Regions from separate parts of the Homo sapiens genome. Here all the other regions are reported to be linked to region 2. The links are microRNA targets in miRTarBase. Many come from high-throughput screens and were not tested one by one. Region 2 holds a microRNA gene; each other region holds the end of a gene's coding sequence.
The links. The annotated mature microRNA hsa-miR-328-3p reads CUGGCCCUCUCUGCCCUUCCGU and lies in region 2 at 2,646-2,667, opposite strand. An mRNA with a match to its seed (bases 2 to 7 or 8) in the 3' UTR can be bound and repressed. Matches are read on the target gene's strand: a 7mer-m8 pairs with bases 2 to 8, a 7mer-A1 pairs with bases 2 to 7 and ends in A, and an 8mer does both.

Region 1: the mRNA of HIF1AN is a reported target of hsa-miR-328-3p. Seed matches in the 3' UTR shown: 7mer-m8 at 1,713-1,719, 7mer-m8 at 2,697-2,703 and 7mer-m8 at 6,174-6,180.
Region 3: miRTarBase lists ARHGEF25 as a target of hsa-miR-328-3p. The part of its 3' UTR that is shown has no 7-base or 8-base seed match.

Annotation. Positions count from the first base shown.
Region 1 is chr10:100,546,911-100,554,070 of GRCh38, forward strand. It overlaps HIF1AN (hypoxia inducible factor 1 subunit alpha inhibitor), which reads left to right. Exons shown (of 8, transcript NM_017902.3): 7 at 230-340; 8 at 1,183-7,160. The coding sequence ends at 1,227. Among named protein-coding and RNA genes, the nearest start is that of HIF1AN, 15 kb to the left of the region's middle.
Region 2 is chr16:67,199,682-67,206,856 of GRCh38, forward strand. MIR328 (microRNA 328) reads right to left here and starts at 2,714; the gene lies at 2,640-2,714. ELMO3 (engulfment and cell motility 3) reads left to right here. Exons shown (of 20, transcript NM_024712.5): 3 at 3-75; 4 at 270-320; 5 at 511-680; 6 at 770-869; 7 at 976-1,127; 8 at 1,209-1,287; 9 at 1,704-1,754; 10 at 1,839-1,961; 11 at 2,061-2,192; 12 at 2,296-2,397; 13 at 2,495-2,603; 14 at 2,716-2,852; 15 at 2,946-3,109; 16 at 3,211-3,323; 4 more. The coding sequence ends at 4,196.
Region 3 is chr12:57,615,786-57,622,973 of GRCh38, forward strand. It overlaps ARHGEF25 (Rho guanine nucleotide exchange factor 25), which reads left to right. Exons shown (of 15, transcript NM_182947.4): 13 at 52-232; 14 at 499-710; 15 at 999-1,460. The coding sequence ends at 1,109. LOC101927583 (a long non-coding RNA gene) reads right to left here and starts at 6,118. Exons shown (of 4, transcript NR_120450.1): 1 at 4,856-6,118; 2 at 3,846-4,702; 3 at 2,955-3,052; 4 at 2,620-2,845. It also overlaps the pseudogene SLC26A10P. RefSeq lists enhancers at 3,973-4,539, 4,677-5,496.

The sequences.
Region 1 (7,160 bases), not on the chromosome of region 2:
TGTATCTTTAGTAGAGATGGGGTTTCACCATGTTGGCCAGGCTGGTCTCAAACTCCTGACCTCAAGTGATCCACCCGCCTCGGCCTCCCAAAGTGCTGGGATTATAGGCCTGAGTCACCGTGCCCGGCAAGAATTGGGTTTCTTAGAAGGGAGGATGGTACTAAGAACAGTAGAGTGACACTGACGCCTGCTGCTAAAGGCATTTCCTGAGCTACTGCTTCCTTTGTAGGGGGCTCCCACCCCTAAGAGAATTGAATATCCTCTCAAAGCTCATCAGAAAGTGGCCATAATGAGAAACATTGAGAAGATGCTTGGAGAGGCCTTGGGGAACCCACAAGAGGTAGGTGACTGCCCCAAGGTGGCTCAGTGGGTGGGTTGACCAAGGAAAGTCAGGATCAGAGCGACATTCTTTACAGCTTCTGTGTTTCAGTGTCTGGTGTCCTCTCTCTCCATAGAGGTTATGGGTATGTTCAGAAAAATTCTTGTTTTCTGGTGATAGCTGGGCTTGACTGGCAGATCAATTATAATTAGTTCCATGCTAGTAGTAATGTTCCCCATGGGTATTATGTACCATCTGGGGACCCCCTGAGGGGATTCTTCTGGAACAGGAAGCGAGCACTAACACATCTCCTTGCACTTTCCCAGCTGTGCCAGGGCTGCTGTAGGTAATGTTGAGAGACCTGCTTCCCATGCAGGTGTGCCAGTGGCCCATTGGGTAAATGGGGGAGGTTTGTATTTGTAGGGTTCTTGCTTGCCTCTTGGAGGTAACCTCAGCATCCACAGACACCTGTGGTGTTGGGAGATAGCATCAGCCCCAGTTGCAGATGATCATTTTTTGAGGATATGGAGGCAGTTAACATTCTGGAGAAACATATAGACACTCTTGGGTGTTCGGGGATTATTAGCTTCTCTGACCATGTCTGTCCGTTTGGGGCAGATTACGGTAAGAGACGGTGTTGTGCGAGAGAAGAATAATAGTACAAGATGGACCCCTGAGGGAAAGACTATGTCCCAGAATACTGGGTTGACCTTCAGGAAGATAGGTGATTAGAGGATTCACAAGATTGTATGAAAACATTGTCTCTGTCCTTGGCTGGACATCTGATGTCTCCAGACACACCCTGTCCAATTCCAGGGCCAGGGAACAGCCAGTTCTGATTGGCTCCTCATGTTTCTTTACAGGTGGGGCCCTTGTTGAACACAATGATCAAGGGCCGATACAACTAGCCTGCCAGGGGTCAAGGCCTCCTGCCAGGTGACTGCTATCCCGTCCACACCGCTTCATTGATGAGGACAGGAGACTCCAAGCGCTAGTATTGCACGCTGCACTTAATGGACTGGACTCTTGCCATGGCCCAGGAGTCAGGTGTTTGGAGCGAGGCAGGGCAGTTGGCACTCCACTCCTATTTGGAGGGACTTCATACCCTTGCCTCTTGTGCCCCAGCACCTTCTCTCTCTGCCCCCCGCCTAAAGTCCTGCATTCAGTGTGTGGAGTCCCAGCTTTTGGTTGTCATCATGTCTGTGTGTATGTTAGTCTGTCAACTTCGGAATGTGTGCGTGTGTGTGCATGCACACGCATGTATGTATCTGTTCCCTGTTCCTTCTGGGTCAGGCTGTCACTTCCGGCTCTCAGCCCTATCTCCTGCAACCTCAGTGCCTCAGCCTGAGAGAGAGATGAGATGCTCTTGGACTCCCCACTGCATCTGGGCTGCAGGGCCAGAGCTAGTCTGACCATTAGGTCAGTCTGCCTCCTGACAGTTTTTGCGTAGTCAAGCTCTAGGCGGTATGGGAATGGCTACCGGGACTCTAATGGGGTGAAAGAGAGGGGAGGCTTGCCTTTGAGAGCCTATATAGCCTTCCTGTGAGAGAGGATTAGATAGGGTTCCAACTGGGCCTACAAGCTCAAGCCATACATAAAAGGACCTTGGGACATAAGAACCAATGATTGTGCATAAGTTCTAAATTAGAGACACATATAGTTTCTCTCTTTCAGCACCAGCTCTTGCCCCTATGCTGGGTACCAAGGGAGTTCTCCTAGCTGTGGCTTCTCTAGGTTCTAGGGGTGCAAGCCTCTGTGTGTTTGTTTGTGTGTGTCTGTGTGTGCGTATCCACACTAGGGGTGCAAGCCTCTGGGTGTGTGTGTGTGTGTGCGTGCGTGTGTGTGTGTGTGTCCGTGTGTGTGTGTGTGTGTGTCCACACTGGCCAGCCTCCCTACTTACCAAGGTTCTCCACTGCTTACCTTTTCCAGTGGGACAGTACAGTGTGAGCCCCCGGGAAGTACTGCCTGACCTATCCTAAGCTTTTACACTTGGATTTTAGCCATCATATGTTGGCCAGGTCTCACTGCAGCCTGCCCGAGGCTAACTGGCTAGAGCCTCCAGGCCCTATGATGCTCCCTGCCCAGGCCATATCCTTTATTCCTGCTGAGCTTCCTGGCTGAATAGATGAAATGGGGTCAAGCCCAGGCAGCTCATTCACTACCTGTGATCCACCTCAGGGCACGGGCAAACACATAGGCTTGCGTCTTAAAGCCAGCTCCTCTGCCAGACCCCGTTGTAATGTGCCACAACACCCTCAATAGTCAGGGCAACTGGTGGAGCATGGAAGTCGAATTTCCTTTTCTGTTAGGAGCTACTCCTGGGAACCCCTCTCAGGGCTGCAGCTTACAGGTGGGCAGCTGTGATTGCACAACTTGAAGGGCCATCATTCACATCTATTCAGTGGGAGTGGGGTCCCTGGGATTGGGCAGTGTGGTGGCCCTGTGTCTCCTCACCTCTGCTCCTGTCTTCATCACCTTCTCTCTGGAAGGGAAGAGGAGTTGGAAGGTCTCTGGTTTTCTTTTCTTTTTTTTTTTTTTTGCCAAAGGTTTACTTCCAGCATCTGAGCTCTGGCTCTCACCCCTGAAGCTCAGTTATAGTGCACTGATGAACTGAGAGGATGCGTGTGGATGTGTGTGCATGCCTGAGTGCGTTTTTTGGGGAGGGGTGTTTATTTTTAGTACCCCATTCTGGGGTTCTCTGATGCAGTGTGGATGTGAAGATATGGTACCTTCTCAAGTGTAGCTCTTTCAAATATAGTCAATGCTGGGAAATGTGATTGCAGTGATCTCTATCTCTCCACTTCTTTTGGGAAAGAGGAGCACAGGAGCGGAGGAAAAACTTGGCCACAGTCACACTTGGAAAGATAGTAGATTATTTTCGTTCTCCTCAGCAGGTCTGCTGTATTCCTCGCTCAGCGCTCAAAGATGTGGGTGATGTGTCAAGGAGGCATGCACTCAGCTGGTCCTTGCTGAGTTATTTGCTGACACAGGTCTCACTAAGGTGGCTGAGGGGTGGGAGGGAGAAGGCTAATCTTGGAACCTTCACAGGATTGGCCTTGATCCTTGGGTAACACAAGAGTGATTCCTGATTTTTAGACACCTAATATGTGCCTAGTGCTTTTCTCTTTGTTCCTCACTATCCTGCAAGGTAGGTATTCTCACTTACAGATGAATAAATGGGCTCAGAGAGATTAGGTGATTAGTGACAATCAGTTGTAACTTAGCACTGTTAGGCTGCAAACCCCTTGCTCCTTCCTTTCCACCAAACTATGTTGATTTTCCTTCCTTACCTCCCTCCTTGTACCACAGGTTCTGTCCTCAAGATATCACCCCACTGGGCAGTATCTGAAGGCAGACCCAGCCCAAGATGGTGCAGAATATACAGCTCAGGGTGAAAGTTCTTCTGGGCTCCTGCTAACAAAGTCTTGGAAAAACTGCCTGGGAAGCCATATTATGAATTAGTGCTAGAAGAAGCTGTGGGGGGAACTGAGTTCTGTGTCTAATTGCATTACTTATGTGTCCTTGAATAGGACCCATAACTCCTCCCGGCATGCTTTTGCATCTATAGAACTGAAGCTGTAGTTCTAGATGGCACTAAGGGTCTTGGTTCATATTCAGCTGCTGCTTCCCCCCAAGGAAAAGATGAGGTTTTTCCCCTTCGATTACCTTTTGAGGGATGTTTAGGCTCAAATTCTGCTTGCCACAGAGGAAACATTTCTGCTGTAGTTGTTTACCTCCATCCTAGCTGGCAGTGTGGGACACACACATACAGCAAGTGAAGGTGGGGGTTTGGGCCTGTATAGAGGTCAGCTACGCTGCAGGCTCATCTATTCACACCAGCAGGTACAGAGAAAACTAGTGTTTTGTAAAGTCAAATATTTGTTGGGGGTTGGAGTTCTGGGGTTGGAGGAGGGGCTGTTCTGGGCATCAGTTGAGCAGATGCCCAGGATGCCTGGGGGAGACCAGCTTCCCCTACAAATCAGAGCTCTAAATTACAAGGTTTTTACCAACGTGAACAGTTGGGGGAAGTCGTCTGCTCTCATTTGCGTAATGGTTTCTGTCACTGGTGATTAGACACAGGATGAAGGAAAAGAAATTTGACAATTAGGAATGAGCGATCATTAATCTGAATCTGTTAGGAGACAGAGAGGGGAAGGATCCTTATCAGTGGGCCAGCCCAGTATGGGGAGACACTCCCTCCCTCTGCCCCCAGAGACTCCTGGGCTACATCCTCTTTCAGTATTGCCACAAGTGGGCAGAGCTTGTATTTCTTAACAAAGATTAGGGACCCAGTTGCCAGCCTGAGATGGATATAGGAACAGACATCTTTGGGCATGAGCCAACAAAGATAGAAATAGATGAGTGTCAGGTACAAGCTATAAGGCAAAGAATAACAGTGGAAAAGTTTTGACATGTGTTTGCCATTTGTGGAAAATGTTTTTGTAATAGTCAACACCCCTCATAGCCCACCTGTGACAAGTACTTGTTACATTCCAGCACTGTAGGGCGTGAGGAAAATCTGGTCCTTATCAAATCCCAGGAGCTTCTGCTTAGTTGGGGAAGAAATTACATGAAGCAACCAGAGGTTATAAGGCCACACTTGTATATCGTGCACCCTGTGTGGACAAGATTAGGGACTGTTGAGAGAGGAGGAAACCAGTAGAGAGCAAAGCTCTACCCAGGCTCCTTGTAAGCCTCTGGGCTCCCCCGAGAGGGCCTCGCTACTCTACGCTTCCTAGCAACGTTGATGTCCCCACAACCCCACATCAGTGCAGCTGTGGCTGTGTGGAGGGGCTCTGAGGCCTCTGAGGCCAGATGTGTAAACAGTGCTGAGGTTCAGTAATAGGATGAGTCTTCAGGTGTGGAGCAGCCCACCTTGGCTCTTCCCATGTCTCTGTGTTACTTCTCATATTCTGCTGTCCTTTCAAACTTCAAGGACAGTATTAATTTATACTAGTATTTCTTCCTCAGTTTTGTGACTTGAATGCAGTGAGTGCCTTAGAGGATCCAAGGATGAAGGAATGCGGGTTGGTGGTTCTCTCTTTCAGAATGGGAACTTCCCAAAAATGGGGCTGCGTCTCGCCTCTCAGTAGGTTCCCTACCTCTGGGTCTTCCACCCTTCAAAATCTGGTACAGAATTTAGCAGGGGCTGCAGGGAATGACCCTCAGGGACCAGTTTCACCCAGATGGGGTAGATGATGAGGTATACCTAGAAGTAGCTCAGGGCTCCAGAGTCTGGCCTTTCAGCTGGTGTCTTACTCCCCTTTGAGACCTTCAGCTGCTTGTCTTCCACTGCCTGCATACTTCTCTGATGTCTTCTCAAACTGTTGGCTCTAAAGGGATGTTCCAGCCTCCCTCTCCAGAGCTGCCTGCAGTTTCCCTTATTCAGCTGTCTCCTGCCTAGTCTCTCCAGCGGCCTCCTTACCAAGACCCTTTTTCCTAAACAGTTGTCCTTCCCTCAGAAACTCCATGGCTGCAAGTGTGAATAGACTTGTCTTTAGGATCCCTCTCTCTGGTCATCCCTGATCATCTTAGGGCCGTCTCCCTTTTCTGATTTTTGACAGCTCTGTTTATTTTGCCCATGGCTAGTCCTCTTGTTTTGTGTCTGCTGTGTGTTCTTGCCCTTCCATTGTCAGTTCTGTACATCCTGGTTCAGCTTGTCTCACTGTGGTAGCCCCTTCTGCTTGTCTTCAGCCATCTTGGTTTAATCCTCATAGGTCATGGATGAATGGAGCCTTGCTGAGCACTTTGAGGGCATTTCTGTTGGGCACAACCTCAGAAACGGGAAGTCTTGAGGCCTGGGGGCGTGTGGTCAGTGAGGCCTCCAGAGGTGGGTTAGGGGTGGGCACCTACAAGGGCCAGTTGAGGGGAGAGGTGCAGGGATTGCTGAGGAGACTTTGTGAGAATGATGTCAGGCCCGGGAAGCTGGTGTGGAAGAACTGAGCTGTCAGAAGGAGATACCAATATCCCCTTTGCAGGGTGGTGATGGGCATCAAACATGACGTGGAACATGTCCCCTTCATGGAGGGTTTCCATCTAAATGCATCTGTGTGCCTTAGGGATCAGTAGTTCAGGGGTGGTGGACTTTTTTGAGTGTCTCCTAATTTCTCTGAGGTGTCTTTGGCTCTGTGTCACCAAATGTGCCTGACCTCTGCATCCCAGTGGTTGCTGAAAGGGAAACAGTATATTGCGTAGTCAGATGTCAGGAGTAGAGATCTTAATGAGAAAGGCCCTGGCAGCTGGAGAGATGAGAGGACCTAGTGGTCAGCTTATACCCAGACTATCTCTCCACTCCTCCAAGAGTTTGAGTCCCATAGCTGATGAAAGAATTTACATATGGGCTCCCCCCTGCTTTCCCACTGAAAATCTATTCTCATATTTTGGGAAGGAGCATATGTCCTTTAACTTTCAATGGTAAACAATCTAGGATAGTGTTTAAAGGCATGGATTTTGGAGTCACATATAGTTGGTTTGAATTTCTAGCTTCACTACTTACCAGCTGGGTTTGACCTTGGTTGATTTACTTAACCTCTCTGAGCCTCAGTTTCCTCAACTATAATAACATGGGTGGAGGGAGGCATGTTGAAAATATCTACCTCAGGGTTGTTGGAATAACTGAAACAATGTTTGTAAAGCTTTAGCACAGTGCCTGGCAAGCACTTAATAAATGGCTGTGGTGGTGGTGGTTATATTTATTATGTGATTTATTCAGAAACTTGGTTTCAGTGATCTCTAAACAGATTTCCAGTGGTTCTTTCTCTCTCAAGAAAAGCATAGGGAAAAACGAGAAACACCTTAGATAAACCATATTGAGTTGAGGGTAGACAGAAGAGTCTAGTAC
Region 2 (7,175 bases):
AGGTGGAGCCTGACGCACTCTGAGCGTTACGCCCTGCAGTTTGCGGATGGGCACCGGAGATACATCACCGAGAATGTGAGTCCCCTCTCCCCAGCCCCAAGCTCGGCCTTCCGACCCCTCTAACCCACCTGGCCCCGATAACTCTGGCTCTTCATCCCACTACCGGAGCGCGATCTGTTATTCACCCCCAGCCGCCCTCACCGACACCCCAGTTGATCAGTCCTCGGAGCCCTCCCTGACCTCGCTGCCTTTTCTGCTGTCTTCTCCAGAACCGCGCGGAGATCAAGAATGGCAGCATCCTGTGCCTCAGCACGGCCCCAGTAATGCCCCTCCCGTCCCGCCTTCCCCATCCCTGCCCCTTTGCTCCAGGTCCAGAGGCCCCCCGCCCCGGAGGCCCCCGCCCCAGCCCTGCCTTGCGCCACCTAGTTGACGCCCGGGGCCGCACACTTCCAGGTCCCACCCTTACCATGCCCAGCCTCTTCACCTCTGCTCCTGCTCCGTTCCTGCCAGGACCTTGAGGCTGAGCAGCTCTTGGGTGGGCTGCAGAGTAACAGTCCTGAAGGGCGCCGGGAAGCCCTGAGGCGCCTTGTTCCGCTGGCCTCGGACATGATCTTTGCCAGGGAGGTCATCAGCCGTAATGGGCTCCAGATACTAGGCACCATCATTGAAGATGGGGACGAGTGAGCACAGGGATGTGTGGGCTGGGGGAGATGGTGGGTCTTTCTGGTCCTGGGGTGGTCCTGCTCAGCCCCAGATGTCCCCCCTCCAGCCTAGGAGAGGTGCTGGCCCTCAGCCTGAGGGCCTTCTCAGAGCTCATGGAGCACGGCGTGGTGTCCTGGGAGACTCTGAGCATCCCCTTTGTGAGGAAGGTGGGTGGGCTTTCCTAGGGCAGCGGGTGGGGGCAGTGGAGCAGTGGGGCAGTGGTAGACCCGGTCTTCCATGGGGGTGAGGTGGTGACACCCCCGCCCCTTACAGGTGGTGTGCTACGTGAACATGAACCTCATGGATGCCTCCGTGCCTCCCCTGGCCCTTGGGCTGCTGGAGAGTGTGACCTTGAGCAGCCCAGCCCTGGGCCAGCTGGTCAAGAGCGAGGTGCCCCTGGATAGGCTGCTGGTGCACCTACAGGTGTAAGCCTCTGGGGCTGGGGTCCAGATGCAGGGAGCAGGGCTGGAGCCTGAATGTTCCACTGAGCCCTCTTCTTGCCATAGGATGAACCAGCAGCTGCAAACCAAGGCCATGGCCCTGCTGACAGCCTTGCTGCAGGGGGCCAGCCCTGTGGAACGCAAGGTGAGTGTCGATCGGTGGCTAGATGGGGGCAGCACCCGGTGGGCGCTGCCCCACCCTGAAGCAAAATCCTCTAAGCCCCCCTTTTTTTTTTTTTTGAGATGGAGTCTTGCTCTGTCGCCCAGGCTGGAGTGCAGTGGTGCGATCTTGGCTCACTGCAAGCTCTGCCTCCCGGGTTCACACCATTCTCCTGCCTCAGCCTCCCGAGTAGCTGGGACTACAGGCTCCCGCCACCACGCCCAGCTGATTTTTTTTTTTTTTTTTTTTTTTTTAAGTAGAGACGGGGTTTCACTGTGTTAGCCAGGTTGGCCTCCATCTCCTGACCTCGTGATCCGCCCGCCTTGGCCTCCCAAAGTGCTGGGATTACAGGCGTGAGCCACCGCGCCCAGCCTAAGCCCCCTTTCTTTCTACCCCCTCAGCACATGCTTGACTATCTTTGGCAGAGGAACCTTCGCCAGTTCATCTATAAGGTAGGAAGTGGTGGGCCAGGGGGACCTCTCTGCCCCTCCCTCCCCGTGAGCCCTCGCTTACACCAGGGACTGGCTGTCCTGCAGAACATCATCCACAGTGCAGCACCAATGGGCGACGAGATGGCTCATCACCTGTACGTACTGCAGGCTCTCATGCTGGGGCTGCTGGAGCCGCGCATGCGGACGCCCCTGGACCCCTACAGCCAGGTGTGTGTCTTTGGTGAGGACAAGGCAGGGGGTGGCTTAGAGCTTGGCCTTGAATCTATAATCTTGATCCCCTCCCCCGCCACCCAACACTGACCCCAGGAGCAGCGGGAGCAGCTGCAGGTCCTACGCCAGGCTGCCTTCGAGGTGGAGGGGGAGTCCTCGGGTGCCGGGCTAAGTGCTGACCGTCGCCGTTCCCTCTGTGCCCGAGAGTTCCGCAAACTGGGCTTTTCTGTGAGTATCACCCCTACCCAACTCCCCACCCCTGCCTCAGCCCAGGGCTGTTGTTCCAGGCGGCCGTGGCCCTTCTTGAACTGCCTGTGCCCACTTCCCCCAGAACAGCAACCCAGCACAGGACCTGGAGCGCGTGCCCCCCGGTCTGCTGGCCCTGGACAACATGTTGTACTTCTCCAGAAACGCGCCCAGCGCGTACAGCCGGGTCGGTGACAGGGTAGGGTGGGGGGGTGGCAGCATCCCCCAGGCAGGGTCCCCATGGGCTTAGCTGTGACTCCTTGCCCCATTCTCTGCGCCCCCAGTTTGTGTTGGAGAACAGCAGCCGCGAGGACAAGCACGAGTGCCCCTTTGCCCGGGGCAGCATCCAGCTGACGGTGCTGCTGTGTGAGCTGCTCCGTGTTGGGGAGCCCTGTGAGTGGCCTGGACTGGGCACAGCATGGCCAAGAGCAGGGGACGGAAGGGCAGAGAGGGCCAGGGGCTGTATGCACTTTCTCCCTGAGCCCCTCCTGCCCCCCCACTCCAGGCTCTGAGACAGCCCAGGACTTCTCACCCATGTTCTTCGGCCAAGACCAGAGCTTCCACGAGCTCTTCTGTGTGGGCATCCAGCTGTTGAATAAGACCTGGAAGGAGATGCGGGCTACACAGGAGGACTTCGACAAGGTGGGTGGGGTGGGAGCTGGGAGGCCTGGGCCAGGGCAGGGGGCTGATCTGGGTACAGAGCTTAGGCCCTGAGCTGAGCTTGGGCGGCCCCAGGTCATGCAGGTGGTGCGGGAGCAGCTGGCCCGCACTCTGGCCCTGAAGCCCACTTCCCTGGAGCTCTTCCGAACCAAGGTGAATGCGCTCACTTATGGGGAGGTGCTGCGGCTGCGGCAGACTGAACGGCTGCACCAGGAGGGCACACTGGCTCCCCCTATACTGTGAGTCTGGGGGGATGGATCCTCAGTCCTAGCCCTACCTTCCTTGGTGCCCCCTGGGCTACTCCCCAGGTCAGATGTGCTCAGTGACACCCCTCTATCAGGGAGCTGCGGGAGAAGCTGAAGCCAGAGCTCATGGGCCTGATCCGCCAGCAGCGCTTGCTCCGCCTCTGTGAGGGGACGCTCTTCCGCAAGATCAGCAGCCGGCGGCGCCAGGGTCTCTGAATGGGCATGGGCAGGGGGCAGAGGGCAGGCAGAGGGCAGGCAGAGGGCGGCTGGCTTGGTGTCAGGACCTCTCAGCACTCTGGCCCTCTTCCCTTTCTCCACGCAGATAAGCTGTGGTTCTGCTGCCTGTCCCCCAACCACAAGCTGCTGCAGTACGGAGACATGGAGGAGGGCGCCAGCCCGCCTACCCTGGAGAGTCTGCCCGAGCAACGTAAGGCGGGCAGGGGCGGGGGCCAGATACCTGCTCTCCCCAGACCGCCCTGGGCCCCGGGGCTGCCAGGGCTGCAGTGCTCAGCCCAGCCTTCTTCCTGCAGTCCCTGTGGCCGACATGAGGGCACTCCTGACAGGCAAGGACTGCCCCCATGTCCGGGAGAAGGGCTCCGGGAAGCAGAACAAGGTGAGTACAGCGGGCCAGGGGCTCCTTCCCACCCGCCCCCGCCTACCCTGTCCCCTGCTCAGTGTCCCCGCTCCCTTGCTTCCCCAGGACCTCTATGAGTTGGCCTTCTCAATCAGCTATGACCGTGGGGAGGAGGAAGCGTACCTCAACTTCATTGCCCCCTCCAAGCGGGAGGTGAGTGTCCGCCAGGCTGAGGTCGGCAGGTGGGCAGGGGAGGCAGATGGGCAGACCCTCACGGCTCTGTGCCACCCCCAGTTCTACCTGTGGACAGATGGGCTCAGTGCCTTGCTGGGCAGTCCCATGGGCAGCGAGCAGACACGGCTGGACCTGGAGCAGCTGCTGACCATGGAGACCAAGCTGCGTCTGCTGGAGCTGGAGAACGTGCCCATCCCCGAGCGGCCACCCCCTGTGCCCCCACCCCCCACCAACTTCAACTTCTGCTATGACTGCAGCATCGCTGAACCTTGACAGTGTGGCTGGCCATGGGCCACAGCTGCGGCCACTGCAGCAGCCATGAAGGGCAGTGGGTAGAGGAGTGCAGGCACCCTGACCAGCAGAGATTGCTGCAGAAATAAAGTCTGCTTGGCTCTTGGGATATGTTGAGCCAGCTCTGTACCTTGCGGGCTGAGCCTGTGACAGTGACAGTCTTCCCCTTCTGCCTTCAAACTTAGCTGGTGGATAAGATGGGGCATCAGGCCAGGCCACAAACTTTGACAGCTACGGTTGAGGGGCTGGTGTTCTGAAGGGGGTGGGGAGAGGCTGGGACTGCAGCCTTTCTCCAAGGTGAGTCCTCAGCCTCCCTCCATGCTGGGCCTGCAGGGAGGGTTGGCCTGTGGTCTGGGGGCACCTGCCAAGGGAGAGGCTGAGCTGCCGGCCTGCTGCAGGAGAACTGGCAGGGTAGGAGGCACTGCCCCAAATGGATGCCTTCCTGGACAGCGTTAACAGGGGCGTAGTCTGGGAGCCATCTCCAGAAGGCTCCTGACAATCTGACCTCAGTCCTCAAGCTTGCATGGCCCTGCCTGGTGTCCTTTGTAGGACTTGGAGTTCTCTGGTGAGAGGCATGAAGGGAGAGAGGCAGAAGGGCAGGGTCAGGATCCCCAGGCTGGTAGGAGGATGTGGGCTGATTCCAACAAGAGCCACTTCTGTGCAGGAAGACCCGGTTTCTGATTAAAACCTAACTCAGGGCCGGGCTTGGCTCACGCCTGTAATCCCAGCACTGTGGGAGGCTGAGGCAGTCCGATCACCTGAGGTCAGGAGTTCAAGACCAGCCTGGGCAATATGGTGAAACCCCGTCTCTACTAAAAATATAACAATTAGCTGGGTGTGGTCGAGCACACCTGTAATCCCAGCTATTCGGGAGGCTGAGGCAGGAGAATCGCTTGAACCCGGGAGGCGGAGGTTGCACCGAGCTGAGATTGCACCACTGCACTCCAGCCTGAGCGACAGAATGAGACTCCATCTCAAAAAACAAATTAAAAATCTAACTCAGAACCATGGGTAGGGTGGGGGCCATAGACAGGCCAGAGCCCCTGGGGGCAGAAGCATCGAGGAGTATTGGGCCCAGCTGGAGGTTTGGTCACAGGGGCAGAGGCTGTGATCACAGACCCCAAGCCCGTGAGGAAAGAAGAGCCTATAAGTCTGTGGAGCTCACAGGATAGGCTGAAGCCACTGCCCCTCAGACTTCCCCCTGCCATTCACCTCTTCTCTCACCAGTGCTACCTCCAATATCTTTTTTTTCTTTTTCTTTTTCTTCTTTTTTTTTTTTGAGATGGAGTTTCACTCTTATTGCCCAGGCTGGAGTGCAATGGTGTGATCTTGGCTCACTGCAACCTCTGCCTCCCAGGTTCAAGCAATTCTCCTGCCTTAGCCTCCCAAGTAGCTGGGATTACAGGCATGCGCCACCATGCCTGGCTAAATTTTTTGTATTTAGTAGAGACAGGGTTTCACCATGTTAGTCAGGCTGGTCTCTAACTCCTGACCTCAAGTGATCCACCCACCTCGGCCTCCCAAAGTGCTGGGATTACAGGCATGAGCCACCGCACCTGTCTCCAATACTTTTTTGTTTGTTTTGTTTTTTGTTTGTTTTTTTGAGATGAAGTTTTGCTCTTGTTGCTCAGGCTGGAGTGCAATGGCACCATCTTGGCTCACCATACCCTCTGCCTCCCGGGTTCAAGTGATTCTCCTGCCTTAGCCTCCTGAGTAGCTGGGATTACAGGCATGCGCCACCACGCCCGGCTAATTTTGTATTTTTTGTAGAGAAGGGGTTTCTCCATGTTAGTCAGGCTGGTCTCGAACTCCCAACCTCAGGTGATCTGCCCACCTCGGCCTCCCAAAATGCTGCGATTACAGGCGTGAGCCACCGTGCCTGGCCCCAATACTGTTTTTAACTGTTAACCATCAACCTGGCTGACCTTGAGAACTGATGAAACTCAGTTTCATCCCTCAGTGCTCAGCCCTCAGTGCTGGAGGGCACTTACTCCCCCTCCCCCAGCTAAGCTGCAGATCTTTGGGCATCCAGGGCCCACTATGCCCATGCCTAAGGACTTCCCACCACAAATGGAGCAGTCGGCCATTGAGTTATAGGTGGAAATGGGGGGCAGGGACCCCTGATGCTGTCGGCCTCCCTGTAACTGTCAATTATTCCTTCTTAATGTCTCCAGTCCCTTGTGCATGCCACCATCATAGCAAAAGCCTCCTGACTTCTGGCCTCCTGTCTTGCACTTCCAATCCTCTCAATACCAGCTACCCCAACTGCTTTCTCCGACATAAATCTGATCATACACACACACAAACATCCCATATATTTGATGTCACCCTATCCATGTCCATGGGTTAATGGCCACAGTTTCCATGGCTGAGCCTGAGTTGAGCCAGGTGAGTCTCAGACATACCGTGGTTTAGCCCTTCCACCTGAGCACCTGTGGCTTGCAGGGTTCTCGATGCTTGGTCTGAGCTGGCATCCTCCCTGCCTAGACTACCCCCTCAGTGCCAGCTCTGGCCTGCCTGTGTGCGTCCCCACAGTGCCTTCTACCTGGATCACCCCCTTCCTTTCTTCTGGCCATTTTCACTGCCCTGATTCCTTCCTGGACCCTCCAGGCCCAATTTGTTGCTCCCTGGGCTCTGGTCCCAGGTGCTTGTCTCTCTCTTCACCCGCACCCTGCACACTGGACTGTCCCTGCTAGCTGGCTTCTCTGCCTCCCCAGCTGGCCCTGGGGCTGGGAGAGCTTTGGCCCCTCTGAATCCCCACATAAAGCACAGTCCCTGCAGGTACTGGGGGAGCCCTGGCTCGCTGCTACAACCAATGAACAGGGATATAGACGAGGTGCGGGGACACACCAAGGGCCAGACCTGCCATGGAGAAGTCACCAGCACCATTGAGGGGGCTGGATTAGGTGACCTCTAGTGACCCCCTCACCCAGAGATGCTGGCCTCTTTCATTCTTTTCTT
Region 3 (7,188 bases), not on the chromosome of region 2:
GCCAGGGAGGGCCTGAGGAATCTGGGGGCTGTCTCCTATCTGCCAATTCAGGTGAGCTGCCTGGGACTGGAGGGGAACCTCCAAGGTGACCCTTGCCGCTTTGCACTGACCTCCAGAGGGCCAGAGGGTGGGATCCAGCGCTATGTCCTGCAGGCTGCAGACCCTGCTATCAGTCAGGCCTGGATCAAGCATGTGGCTCAGATCTTGGAGAGCCAACGGGACTTCCTCAACGGTGAAGCTCTCATCCTTTCTTCCCGATGTGCTCTCTCAGCCCCTTAACCTCCTGAATCCCTCACTGCCCAGTCTCCAGTACCTACCCTCTGACCATGGCCCATCCCCTTTTCCACTGCTAGCTCAAAATTTGATAGAATCCCCTAAAGCCCTAAGCAATTGACATTGGCTGACAGGGAGGGAGGGCAAAGTGGGAGAATGATACAGGCCCTAGGGAGCAGACCTGTCTCTGCGGTAACCCTCCTTCTGTTCCTCTCTTTGCTCCAGCATTGCAGTCACCCATTGAGTACCAGAGACGGGAGAGCCAGACCAACAGCCTGGGGCGGCCAAGAGGGCCTGGAGTGGGGAGCCCTGGAAGAATTCAGCTTGGAGATCAGGCCCAGGGCAGCACACACACACCCATCAATGGCTCTCTCCCCTCTCTGCTGCTGTCACCCAAAGGGGAGGTGGCCAGAGCCCTCTTGCCACTGGATAAACAGGTATGACGAATAGAGCTCCCTCATTGTAGGGATAAAAAGGGGAGAGCCTCTCTTGTTCTGGGACCCCAAGTTCCCTCCCCATATCATTCCTTCCTTTTATCTGGTCCTTCCTACTTCCCATCCCTTACGCTTCTCCCCTCTATTTTAACTCTGGAGAAGCTGATAGTCTCAGACAGTCTAAGATATCTAGCAAGAGGAGGTGGCTTGGCTAGGGACTTAAACTGAAAAGAGAGAAGTGAGGGTAGATTTCTGGCCTTTTTGATCCTCTGACTTGAATCTTTTCTTCAGGCCCTTGGTGACATCCCCCAGGCTCCCCATGACTCTCCTCCAGTCTCTCCAACTCCAAAAACCCCTCCCTGCCAAGCCAGACTTGCCAAGCTGGATGAAGATGAGCTGTAACTGGTGAAAACCATGGGGGTGGTGCTGACTCAGCCGCCTATTCCCCAAGGAGCTTCAGGGCAGTCCTTCTGGCACTGCTCCAGAATTCCTCCTTCTTGGTGTGTCTGGAGGGTGGGCAAGGCTGGGAGGGATATCAACTTGGAGGAGAACACCTAGACCCAAGGACTTTTTTCTGCCCAAGGAACACAGTTTCCTTCAGCTCCCATCCCTATGCATGCATCATGGTCCCCCCAAAAGGAGGATATGTGGGTGGGTGGGAGGGCTGGGGCAGGGGCCAGATAGAAATTATTGGTTTTGTTTTTTAATTTTGTTTTTCCTGTTTTCTGAGAATAAAGGTTTTGTTATATCACCGAGGCTGCTGTCTTGGCAGAGGGAAGGGGAGGCTGTAGTGGGGGTAGGTGGGGTGAAGTGATATGGAAGAGATCGGTTGGCCCCAGCCATTGGAGGAGGGGGTCTGGTGAAAGGAGAAGGGGACAGGGTGTAAGATAAAAGATGTTGCTATCTTTGTCCCTCAACTGCAGTTGCAGCAGTTGAGGGACAAAGACTGAGGCATGGAACCACTGGAAAGCCCTTAGATTCTTCTTCTTCCCTTTTTTTTTTTGTAGAGTTAGGGTCTCACTATGTAGCCCAGGGTCTTGAACTCCTGGGCTCAAGTGATCCACCAGTCTTGCCCTCCCAAAGTGCTGGGATTGCAGCCATGAGCCGTTGCATCTGGCCAGCCCTAGATTCTTGATGTATCCTCTTTACCCAGCCCTTCTTTTTCCCTACCCACCCTCTGGTCTAGACCCCACCAGAAAGCCCAATGCAGTGTGACTTCTCACCATTCCCCCAACACCCAGATACGAAAGCACAAAATGCCAATGTACCTTTCCTTCTGAGGCTACCATGTTCAGCTGAGGGAGGATGGGAAGGTGGAGAGGATCCTGGGGGCTGAGACCTTTTCCTGGCTCTGGGTCTCCTTATCTTTGCTCTCTGCGAGGTCATAAGCCATGTTCATAGTGAGCAGAAGGGGATTCTTCTTCAAGCCATGGACCCAAGAGCGGACAGCCCAAGGGGATCTTCACCCCTCCCAACTTCTGGGAGAGCCGCTGGAACAGAGCGAGCCAAACATTCACACAGCCATGTCCAGATGCCCTGTCCTGGGTCCTTAATGCATCTCCGAGTCCACTGTATCCATTCGTCCCTTGGGCTCAGTCACGTGCACTTGGGCTTCCTCAACAGACAATAGACTGCTGGGGTGGGAGGGTGAGGAGGAGACCTGGAGCCTCCCTGTGGGCCCGAGGTCCCTTTAGCCGATAATAGGGAGGGATTCCTAAGGGGGGTACAGGATGTAGCGCCCAGATAAGACTTCTGCGGAACAATAGGAGGAACTGAAGAAGGGAGACCCACCCTCACTGCACCCCACCCCCCGGGCTTTGGGGTCGTGGACTGGGGGACCAGAGGATCATGGGGAGGGGTGCCGAAGATTCTTGTGAATGGGGGTGGAGGATCATGGCAAACAGCAGGATTCTGGAGTTAGAACCTTTATATTTCTTTAGGAACCATAGGGACACATGAGCGGGGTGGCTGACCCCTTTGAACTTAGTTTGACCACATATGTGCTTTTGAATGCCTACTTTGTGAACAGCATTTGTTTTTTGTTTGTTTGTTTTTTGTTCTTTTTGAGATGGAGTCTTGCTCTGTCGCCCAGGCTTGAATGCAGTGGCTCCATCTCGGCTTACTGCAACCTCCACCTCCTGGGTTCAAGCGATTATCCTGCTTCAGCCTCCTGAGTAGCTGGAATTACAGGCACCTGCCACCATAACCAGCTAATTTTTGTATATTTTAGTAAAGACAGGGTTTCACCATGTTGGTCAGGCTGGTCTCAAACTCCTGACCTCAGGTGATCCACCTGCCTCGGCCTCAAAGTGCTGGGATTACAGGCGTAAGCCATTTCACCTGGCCTGTGAAAAGCATTTGAATGTGATAAATGGTGCTTCAGTTTTTTTGGTTCCTAAGAAAAAAATATCCTGTGGGTTCAGTATTTCCCCTGAGGCCCTGAACTAGGCCCAGCCACTCCTCACAGAGGTGTGGGTGCTGGTTCTGTCATTATCCCTCTCCAATACATGTGGCTGCATTCCATGTCAGTAGGACATGAAACTGCTTTTTGGAACCAGCTGTGCCCCATGAAGATGTGGGTCTGGGTGAGGTTCAGGATGGGCGCTGAACTTTTTTGCTCTGGCTGGGAGAATGTAGTGGCTCAGGGAAGGACCAGTGACCCAAGAGGAACCAGCCTCTCTCTCCGCCCAAGGTGCCGATGGGGAAAGGAACCGGGAGTTAAGTGAAAAGTCTAAGGAAGGGTAAATAGCGGGTGTTGAGTGTCGGGGTGCGCTTGCCTTTCGGATTCTCTCTCTCTAATATCTACACATTTCCACAGCCACCCCAGAGCCAGCGATCAGATCCGGCCAAGGATGTCTGCAGAAACGCCTAACATAGAGACTCTCCCTCTCCAAGCCGCGGCTCTCGCCAGACCCGAGAAGGTCCTCAAGCGAGGGTGACCTCAGGGCCGGATTGGACCCTGCTTCGTGGGAGGCGGGACTCAGGGCTTAGCGGGCGGAGGAGTATTTAAGACCGGGCGGAGTTGGAGGTGGCCAAGGGCAGAATGAGCGGGATTCAGGGCACCAGGACCTACCCAGGCGCGGGGGACACCTCTGACCTTAAGTACCCCTTGGCGACCAGGCTCAGGGAAGCTCTCACCGAGGCTCGGTTCCATCAGCTCTTCAGGGGCGAAGAGCAGGAACCGGAGCTACCTGAAGAGCGCGGCTTTCCCCGGCTCTTCGGGCTGTGGAGGCTGCGGGCTCGCGCTTGTTCCGGGACAGGGGCGTGGCGCCTGCTGCTGGCTCGGCTGCCCGCGCTGCACTGGCTGCCCCATTACCGCTGGCGGGCCTGGCTGCTCGGAGATGCGGTGGCCGGAGTGACCGTGGGCATCGTGCACGTGCCCCAGGGTGAGAGGCCCTAACAGCAGCCTGTCGGGAGCACAAGCTCTAGAGGGCTTCCGGGAGGAGGCTTAGGGAGCTGGGAATCCGGGAGCAGATGGTGGGTTCCTACCGTCGAGGGTGGGAGAGAGGGATCTGAGGCCAAGTTTGAGGTAAGGACTGTGGAGCTCCATCAGATCCCCATCCCCACCTCCCCTCATCTGCGCAATCCTGCGAGAAGCCTTAGACAGGTTCTGGCTCAGAGAACCGGAGAGAGGCACAACGCCTGGCCCCCAGGACTTGGCCACAGCGTCCCTGACCTTGTCTGCTCCATGACCTCTCACTGAGGCCCATTAACCCCTCAGTTCCCTGATGAGGCTTGATTTAGCATCCTTGATGTCAGCTCCTAAGAGTCTGGGAAGTGCATTTAAGTCCTGGAGGTTGGACAAGGCCCCCTCCCCACAGCACACCTTTCCATCCACTTCTATCCCAGGCATGGCTTTTGCTCTCCTGGCCTCCGTGCCCCCGGTGTTTGGACTCTACACTTCTTTCTTCCCCGTCCTCATCTACAGCTTGCTAGGTACTGGGAGACACCTGTCCACAGGTGAGTGACCAGGGACTTCCAATGACTCTTCTTCCCTATGGGATGAAAATGGACAGGGGCTGTTATTTCCCTTCTTCCTAATTTCCCTCTTCACCTCTCCTACCTTCACCTCCCTCCTTGCCCAACCCTGCCAGGAAACTGACCTAGGCAATGCTTGCTAGAGTGGGTGCAAAGAGGTGGGAGTTTACCTGAACTTTTTTCCCCTATGAAATTTGGTTAAAATGAACATCTCAGGGACTTGGAAGGGGAAGAATAGGTGCATGGTCCCCCAAAGGGGCACGCAGTAGGCAGAGAATCTGCAGGAGGGAGCAGTTTTTGCCGGCTAGCGCAGCTCTTCGCGCCCCACAGTCTTGACGGGGCAGCAGCCTTCTTGGAGAGCCGAGTCTGGCAGCAGGATCTCGGACCCAAGGCATGGACCCTGAGCTGCTGCCCTGCCCAGGGCTGCACAGCTGGTGATGTCTGCATTTGTCCCCCGGCGGCAGGAACTTTCGCCATACTCAGCCTCATGACAGGCTCGGCCGTCGAGCGGCTGGTGCCGGAACCCCTCGTGGGGAATCTGAGCGGAATCGAGAAGGAGCAGCTGGACGCTCAACGGGTTGGGGTAGCCGCGGCCGTGGCCTTCGGGAGCGGGGCGTTGATGGTGAGGGAGGACCCGGGGAGGAACCCGGGGGGATCCCTGCTGAGGGGCCAGGGAAATTGGGCCGGGGAAGAGGGAGGGACCAGCTTTCGGCTTGGGTTCGGGAGGGCGGAGGTGCGCGGGGTTGGTTTGCTCCTCCTCTAGATGGTGACAGCGCGTCTTCTCCCCCACAGCTGGGGATGTTCGTGCTGCAGCTCGGCGTCTTGTCCACCTTTTTGTCCGAGCCTGTGGTCAAGGCGCTGACCAGCGGGGCCGCGCTGCACGTGCTCTTGTCCCAGCTGCCGAGCCTCTTGGGGTTGTCCCTCCCGCGCCAGATCGGCTGCTTCTCTCTCTTCAAGGTGGGGGTGGAAGAAGAAAGGAGAAGGGGCTTCTAGAGGTCCCGTGAATAGGGAAACTCGAAAAGGGAGGAAGGACGGAGGGTGGAGGGGTAGTATGTGACAAGGGAGCAGGAAAGGAGGTTGGAGCCACGTGGCTGAACGAGGGCGCTGAGGAGGTGTAAGCCCTGGTGGCACTGGGTAGAGAGGGCCTCGCTCTGGGGGTCCCGCGCCGGGGCGCATGAGCCCTGGCACGGGGCCCTCTGCTCATCGCCCCTGCCCTCAGACGCTGGCCTCCTTGCTGACTGCGCTGCCTCGGAGCAGTCCGGCCGAACTGACCATCTCCGCGCTCAGCCTGGCGCTGCTCGTGCCGGTCAAGGAATTGAACGTGAGATTCCGAGACCGGCTACCCACGCCGATCCCGGGGGAAGTCGTCTTGGTGAGGATGGCCGTGCGCGCCGGCCCCCTGCCCGCGCAGACCCTGCGGTCCTGTGGGAACTGGCCGCTGCCGCCCCCTGGTGGAGTGCAGAGAGGCCACGGAACAGAGGGCCGGCTCACACTTTCCTTGGCCTCCTGCAGAAGGACGCTTTGACCTTCCACAGCCCCCCTCGACACTGTCCCACGTCTCTCACGGAGCACCCCCTAGACCTCTTGGAGTTTCCTCTGCCATCCTACAGCGCTCCCTTGAGGTCTTGCTGGTCACAGCACCTTCTCTGACATCTGTCCTCACCAGGGTCCTTCCCTGTAATTCACAGTGCATCTCCCTCTCCACCCTCCACCGACATTTCTCTCTCTCCCCAACTAAATAAACGTTCCGCGTCTCCACAGATGCCAGTATATCACTAGATATCGTCCAGCTTCCCTCTTTGGAAGGCTCAGTGGCATCTCTTCATATCCACCATCCTTCACAGAAGCGTCCTCTTACTTCCACGGCTCCAGGCTCTGTGGCCTCAGGCATATGTCATCCCTCTTTCCCAGCTCTACACTACAAATCAGTTGTCAGGCCCTCATCCCAAACACATCCCCGCTCCCCCAGGTGCTGGGCTCCTGCAGCCAGCTAGGCCTGCATTATGGTCCTCTCTCATGGTCAGCCCCTTCTAGCTTCTGCCAGGGACCCCATCTCTTCCCATGCCTTCATTTTGCTCTCTTTTTCAGGTGCTTCTGGCCTCCGTGCTCTGCTTCACCTCTTCTGTGGACACAAGATACCAAGTCCAGATAGTGGGGCTGTTGCCTGGAGGGTAAGAGAATGAAAAGATGCCAGCTTTCTCTTCTCCCACCTCTCCCACCCAACACTCCCTCTTATCTCCACCCCCCATTTTCTCTGCCTTCCTTATCTCACTGAAGCACCTAACCCCTCCTCACCATGGATCCCTCCCTCTCCAGATTTCCCCAACCCCTCCTCCCCAACCTGGCTGAGCTGCCCAGGATTCTGGCTGACTCGCTGCCCATTGCACTGGTTAGTTTTGCGGTGTCTGCCTCCCTGGCCTCCATCCATGCAGACAAGTATAGCTACACTATTGACTCCAACCAGGTGGGACTCTGACTGTGGACCCCAACCCTCTCATTTGAC